Linked DNA regions of Homo sapiens. The protein of the gene in region 1 interacts with the protein of each later gene in a pairwise test. Each region holds a gene or a part of one and is shown on either strand. Other genes may lie near its edges.

Region 1 (3,746 bases):
AGTAGCAAGGCTATCTTGCCTCTGCCATCTGAACAGTCCTTGAATCCATCACTGATTAATCATGAGCAAACCCTCCTACTTCTCACGAGAGTTTCTCTCGGTATGTCCGACACCCACAGCAGAGCCTTCTTAGCTACAGCAAAAGAATACAGTAACTGAAAACAGCTGCCTTAATAGTCAAATATCAGTAATTCCCTTAACCACGCAATGCTGTACTAGGCACACTTCCATGCACTTTATAAAGAGTATGCAGCACTCACAAAAACCGGCCAGGTAAGTATTGCTCTGCCTCCTGCCTCGACCAGTCGTTCATTAGAAGGGGAAAAGGAGGCCAGGCGCGATGGCTCACGCCTGTAATCCCAACACTTTGGGAGGCTGAGGCAGGCGGATTACCTGAGGTCAGGAGTTCGAGACCAGCCTGGCCAACATAATGAGACCCCCCCCCCGCGTCCCTACTAAAAATACAAAAATTAGCCGGCCGTGGTGGCGCGCGCCTGTAGTCCCAATTACTTGGGAAACTGAGGCAGGTGAATCGCTTGAACCCGGGAGGAGGAGGTTAAAGTGAGCCGAGATCGCGCCACTGCACTCCAGCCTGGGTGACAGAGCAAGACTCCGTCTCAGAAAAAAAAAAAAAAAAGGTAAAAGTAGAGACAACCAGGAAGACGGGCAGAGTCGATAATTAATTCGTGAATAATTTAAAGTTGTCTATGCAATATTTCTCCTGAAGATCTAATGTCTAAAGTCTCAAGGGCAGACCTGACGTAAGTGGGGTGGGGAGGAGGAGAGACAGTTGAAAGTGGACTTGAAGAGGCTGGGGGCCCGCACGGGGGCGAAGGTGGGCTGGAAATGGGGCCCAGGGCTGGGACTGGGAAAGCAACGGCGCGGGCAGGCTCAGCGCCGCGTCTCCCTCGGCAAATCCACCCAACCAAAGGCACCGCGGCGTGACGCCCTGCACACCCTGCAGCCAGCACCACACAGGTCCCAGTCAGGCCCGGAGCCGGGCTCCCATCCACCCTTCTGTCCGAGACCGTGCGGACGCGGGCCCGGATACCAGACCCGGATTCCAGTCCGATAAGTGAACCTCAATTCCCAACGCCTCCGATACCGGAACCCGAATCTCCGAATCTCCGATTCCCAGCCCCGGTCCTCGGACCCGGCTCCCTTCCTCTGACCCGAACCCGGATTCCCGCCACGCACCTGCCTCCAGCCTCCTCGGTGGAGCCCAGTCTCCGCCCGCGGGGCAGTCGCGTCGACAGCAAGTACAAGGCGAAGGTGCAGCCGGCGAAGACCAGAAGGAGGCCGAGAAGCGGGCGCATGTCGGCTCCGCACCCCGGCCCGCGGGGCAGCCGAGAAGCTCACTTGCACTCCGGGACGCAGCGGCGGGCGGACTGAGCCCGCGGAGCACGTTCACTGACGGACCAGGGAGGGGTCCGCGCCGAGACCCGCCTCCGAACCAGGCCCCACCTCCTGAGCCAGGCCCCCGCCCCCGATTCTGACTCCGCCCTCTCTGTCCTTCGGTGGAGACTCCGGGAAAAACCTGCCTCCCAGTCTGCCCTCTCTCCGTCTGTCTGTGCTTGTTTTTCTACGTTTATCCCTGTCGCTTTCCCCACTTATTCTGCAGGCATGGCGCGCCCCCAGTGCCGGCTTGGTGCCAGGGCTGGGAGATCCGGGGGTGAATCGTGAGCCCGGCCCACAGCGAGCTTGCAGTCTAGAGATCAAGGCAGTCTTGTCCACAACCTGCTGTCACATAAAGCAAATGTAGCTGGTGTAGCACCAGGGGCTGCAATCAAGTGCGGTGGGGCGGCAATAGTGACCACGGAAATAATCAGAATTGCTTTTAATTCAGCTCCTACTATATTCCCGCATCCCTGAGCCTCACAATCATCCTCCAAGGTAGGTATTTTTGTCTTTCTCTAACAGATGAAAACTCTGAGTTTCAGAAGAATTAAATGACATCCCCCCAAAAGAGAGACAGTATAAGAATCCAAGTCAACCTGAGTCCAAAACCAGTGGCCCTTAACACTGTGTGGCTTTATGGAGGACATGGAGTTTAAGTTTACCTTCAAGGATGAGCAACACTTTTCTTCAAGCAGAAAAAGAAGGGAATGGGTGAACACGGTCCCAGGTAAGGCACCAGAATCCAGTTTCAGTGAAGCCTAAGGTATATGAGAAATAAGTGAGAATCTGGGGACAAACAAGAGTGCACTGAAGGCAGGCTAAGGAGTTAGATTTTTAATAATGTAGATGAGACACCAACAGAGGTGTTTAAGTAAGAGAATGATTTCGTTCCTGTTTTAGGATGTTCGCTTTGGCAGATGATTAGAATACGTGCTGACTTGATAGCCACAACTGTCCTGATAAGAAAGTACGCCGGCCTGGCTGGGCATGGTGGCTCACGCCTGTAATCCGAGGATTTTGGGAGGCCCAGGCGGGCGGATCACTTGATGTCAGGAGTTCGAGACCAGCCTGTCCAACATGGTGAAACCCCGTCTGTACTAAAAATACAATAATTAGCCGAGCATGATGGCATGTGCCTGTAATCCCAGCTACTCGGGAGGCTGAGGCACGAGAATCGCTTGAACCTGGAAGGCAGAGGTTGCAGTTACTTTCCCGACATTGCACCACTGCACTCCAGCCTTGGCGACAAGAGCGAAATTTTGTCTCAAAAAAGAAAGAAAGAAAGCACTCAGGCCTGACCCAGGACCACAGCAGTGGACATGGAGGGAGGAGGCTGGGGGTAGTTGGATTGGTATGATATGTCACTGAGTAAACGAAGGAAGGGACAGAAAGAGAACTCCAAAGTGTCAAAAGCCTGGACAACAGAGAGAAAGCATCCTTGTCCTATCATTTAAAGCACCTGTTGGGCCAAATAGGGAGCACCTTTCAGAATCCATGTGCACAAGATCTCAGCAATTCTACGTCCAAGAATGTAACCTACATCCAAGAATGTACTGGAATTTAATTCCACATCCAAGAATCCCCATAGGTAGCAAAGATGTATATTTAAGGGTATTCTCTCAGCTTTGTTTTTATGTTAGGAGATTGGGAACAACCTAAATGCCCATCAGCTGGTGACTGGCTAGGTTAACTATTCACAAATGGAATACTAGGTAGCCTCCTAAAAGAGGAAAGCAATTCTACATATCCTGATACAGTGTGGTCACCAGATAGATGGCTAAGATACAAATAAAACAAACAAGTTGCAGTGTTAGAGTATGCTATGTATCACTCCTTTTTAAGGACAAAAAGAGGATATACTTTAACTTTTTAAGATACCAAAGTATTTATTTATTTAAAATTTTTTTCACAGAATTGTTATAGCATGTAGAACCAAAAATTATTTACAAATGAAATTATTCAATGTCTGAGATTTGTGTCAAAATAATGGTATGGGGGTTTAGTGAGTAAGCATGTAGGTAGAACAAGATTGTCCATGAGCTGATAGTTGTTGAAGCTGGGTGATCACCTGGGTGTTTTATACTATTTGGGTGTTAAACTATTTTTTTTTCTATTCTTGTGTATGTGTCAAATTTCCACTTAAGAAAATGGGGGAAAATGGTGTCAGCCCTCCATTCCAGCTGAACACACCATGTTAGTTCATGCCCCATCACACCACTCTTCTAGCCATCTGTCAATCTTCTCTGCCTGGCAAATTTCTACTCTTTCATCAGGACCCAGGATAATTATCACCTTCTCTGAGAGGGCTTTTCCAACCCCTATAGTCAGAATCATTCCTTCTCTATGCT
Region 2 (3,746 bases), on another chromosome or scaffold:
CAGTTTGTTTAGACAAGCCTGGGGTTAACAGAGCCAAGGTGTGTGTTTCTAACCGTATCACTTCTGTCCCAAAAAGAGGAAAACTCTGTTTACTGGACTCAGGCCACTAAATATCAGATCCACTGCCCATGGAAAGCAGGGTTAGCAACTGTTGATGGATCAATGGAAAATCCAGCAACTCTTCTCAGCGATACAAAAGTCCATGCATTAATGAAACGTTGTGCGGTACATGGAATTTGTAAAGAGGAGATTGATTGTCTGTCTGTAATTGACATTTACTTTATTCTCTGATACAGACTAAGTTGGAACCGTGAGAAAGCCCTTTATTTCTAAACGGCATCTCAAGACCAGGTAATGCTACTTTCGGAGGAAAAGGAGGAAGAAAAGCGTTGTAATGACAATAACAAATTACGGGGGAAACATTTCGTGGAAATTACTCAGTTTAAAAAACTGACCTAGCCGGGCGCAGTGGCTCACACCTGTAATCCCAGCACTTTGGGATGCTGAGGAGGGTGGATCACGAGGTCAAGCGTTCGAGATCAGCCTGGCCAACACAGTGGAACCCCGTCTCTACTAAAAATACAAAAAATTAGCCTAGCGTGGTGGTGGGCGCCTGCAATCCCAGCTACTAGGGAGGCTGAGGCAGGAGAATCGCTCGAACCTGGGAGGCGGAGGTTGCAGTGAGCCGAGATCGCGCCACTGCACTCCAGCCCGGATGATAGTGCGAGACTGTGTCTCAAAAATAAATAAATAAATAAATAAATAAATAAATAAATAAATAAATAAAAACTAACCTACAAATGCTTTTCAGGGCCATTTTAATGATTACCTTAATAAGACTAAATTGTTTCCAATATTCACAGTCACTCCTCAAATTACATGCGTGCGGAATTTCTAAGCAATTTTGTGTAGCTGCAACTTGTTGAGGGAAAGCAATAAAGTAACTCTGCTACAGAACAAAAGCACTTTTGTCTCGTGGTGGTGAGGGGGCATACCCTGAACAAACAACCCCGACAGTGTTGCTAGTTACTAGTTCCCGAATCTCTAGAAGCCTGCACATGGTTCAAGCTGTTCCCCAGCGGACACAGCACAGTACCAGATGTAACTGGAGGCTGAAAAATGTTATATCCCTAGGCTTCACGAGAGAACCCCAGTTTCCTAATCACCATCGATGGCAATGAGACTGAGTTTGGAAAGAACCACGTGTGCAAAGGCAGACGCAACCCGTGCGGCGCTCTCCTGGCCTCTGCGCCCAGCCCGCCAGCCCTCAGCAGCGGACGCAACGCCGATTTTGCATCTAGATTGCTTTTTGCTCCTAGCGGGGAAAAAGGTGGGAAAAGAGCAAGTTGTGCCATACACCCGCCGGGAGAGTCTTGTCCCGGGGTTTGGAGTGGGTCTGGAGCCCAGGCTTGCACGCCAGGCAACCCCGAAAAGCCGCAGGCTAGAGCCCTGCAGGCGCCGCTGCGCCCCGGCCTCCCCACGACGCACGCCCTGGTGACTGCGGCTCGGGGTACCCTCCCTGCGCCCGGACCCTCACTCACCGCTCACGTTCACCCGCGCCGCCGAGCCCGGGAGCGGGGGCCCCTGCGGCTGCCGCATGCCCTCGGGGTCGAGCGCGACGGGGCGACCGGGCGCCGGGCTCCAGCCGGGCGCGGAGAAGCAGCGGAGGACGCGGCGGGCGGGCGGAGCGCCTCCTCTCCAGCGACCCCTGCGACGCGTCCAGAGCCAAAGGAAAGTTTGGCGGTGCGAGGGAGGGACCTAGGGACAGCGGCCCCTCCCTGCCCCGCCCCGCCCCGCCGGGTGCGTTCGACGTTCCCACTGGAGAGCGTCCCCAACCTGCAAGGCCGCGAGCTGCGCTCAAAGGGGCCCGTGCGAGCCGCGGGAGGGCAGCGCTCTTGCAGACGCGTTCCTGCCTGGGATCGTCCCCAGGTGGGTGGTCGGCCGGCCCCGAGAGGGAAAAGCGCCCACTAAAGGACCGCTAGTACCCACAAGCCTCACGGAGCCATACCTCGGAGCTCCGTATTAGAACGCAGTCCCTCTGCCCCTCTGTCCTCAGAGATTTGTTTGAAGTGGCTGCGGGAAGTGCAGCCCACACCCACCACCCCCGTGGGAGGCAGGCTCTACTCCAAGCCCGACCTAACGCTGGAAACCTCAACCCCAAAGCTACCCGAGGGTGCGGACAGCCCCCAGAGGCAACCAACAATATTTAAGGTTCTTGTAAGAGGTTTCTTGGCCTCCTGGGGCAAATAGTCCTGGATACTTTGTTTTTCAAAGCTGAAATATAAAACCTCCACTGACCCACCTTTAGTAAAGAAGAAAGATGCAAAGTAAAACAAATGTCATGAAGGCATTGTTCTCTCTGAATTCTGCAAAGCAATAACGAAGTCACAGAAATGTTCAAAGTTGTGCTTTCCTGGTGACCTTACAAAAAGGAAATACTGTGAGGTGAAGTCCTTCCCACTCAGACTTCAGGCCCTTAGGAAGCAATGAGAGTTGTGTGCCCAGATGTCTTCCTGTGACCCTTTGCCATCCATCCATCCGTTCATTCATTCATCTTGCATTCACCATTAATACTGCGCCCTTCTGTGTGCCAGCTAGGAACCTCATCCTTGCAAACAACCTGTTAGATAATCTGTCCCCTACCATCAAAGAGATTCTGTTTTCTCTGCAGAGGATGTTTTAATAAGGTTACGTCCCTTACTCCGTGGGTCTTATCCTATAGACCATAATAGCCTAATGTGCCTCAAACCTCCCCGGGGCTACAGCTAAGTTTTCATCAGCATGTGAAAATTATTGTTTCATCTAAGTGTTCAGAAAATTATTGCGGTGTCTTGCAGTTGAACTGTGTAGAGAGAAGTACAACTTGCGAAGCTAGGGCTAAAGAAAGATCATGTGTTTACTTTTACAAGCAGAAGCTTTGCATATGATAAAAAAGCTCGGTGGCAAACATGGTGAAAACCCGTCTCTACTAAAAATACAAAAAGCCGGGCGTGGTGGCACGCACCTGTAATCCCAGCTACTCTGGAGGCTGAGGCAGGAGAATCGTTTGAACCTGGGAGGCGGAGGTTGCAGTGAGCCGAGATCGCGCCACTGCACTCCAGCCTGGGCGACAGAGCAAGACTCCGTCTCGGAGGGGCGGGGGTCGGAAAGAGCTCTCTCTGTCAAGGGAGAGAACAGCTCAGCTCAAACATCACGGTGCTGAAGGGCAACCTGGTAAACACAGAAATACTCAACCACCAGCATTTACTGAATACTTGACGCAACAAAGGTGTAGTATGTTGAGTAAGATGTTGCAGGCTAGACTGTAAACACCACTAAGAGCCTTCTTTTGCTGGGAAAATCTGTTCTGAATCCAAACAACTTACTAACAAAGGCACTTGGGAAACACATTATGTTGCATTATGTTGTACCTTGGGAACTTCCTGAACTCGAGGTAATTGCAAAGCAGAACAGGGATCCCACAGAGTTGAATCTGAATCCTTAAAAAAGGAGGAAAGTGAAGAGGGCATGGGGAGCTGTGTTGCAAAAGGAAAGAGACTTTCCAGATAGATGGTTTTTAACAGCTAGATGGGTCAGATGTGAGGGGAAGGCCAGAAGGTGTTACAGAGAAACAGATTCAGAGAGGAAAAGCAGTGATAAACAAACAAACAAACAAACACCTATGGGGAGAAGCAGGAAAAGAAAAGACGAGGCAAACGACAACTAAAAAGAAAGATGTGGCCCCCAATTCCTAGTTTTTAGAAGGT

The links. Proteins that work in one complex are often made in the same cells at the same time.
Region 2: the proteins of TMEM41A (region 1) and LPAR3 interact in binary tests that used the Homo sapiens proteins (3 or more experiments, as listed by UniProt).

The regions. Positions count from the first base shown.
Region 1 is NC_000003.12:185,497,646-185,501,391, forward strand, and holds the start of TMEM41A (transmembrane protein 41A precursor), read right to left. Parts: upstream 1,391-3,746; 5' UTR 1,317-1,390; coding exon 1,198-1,316; intron 1-1,197.
Region 2 is NC_000001.11:84,891,475-84,895,220, forward strand, and holds the start of LPAR3 (lysophosphatidic acid receptor 3), read right to left. Parts: upstream 1,733-3,746; 5' UTR 1,542-1,732; intron 1-1,541. UniProt on the Homo sapiens protein: Receptor for lysophosphatidic acid (LPA), a mediator of diverse cellular activities. May play a role in the development of ovarian cancer. Seems to be coupled to the G(i)/G(o) and G(q) families of heteromeric G proteins.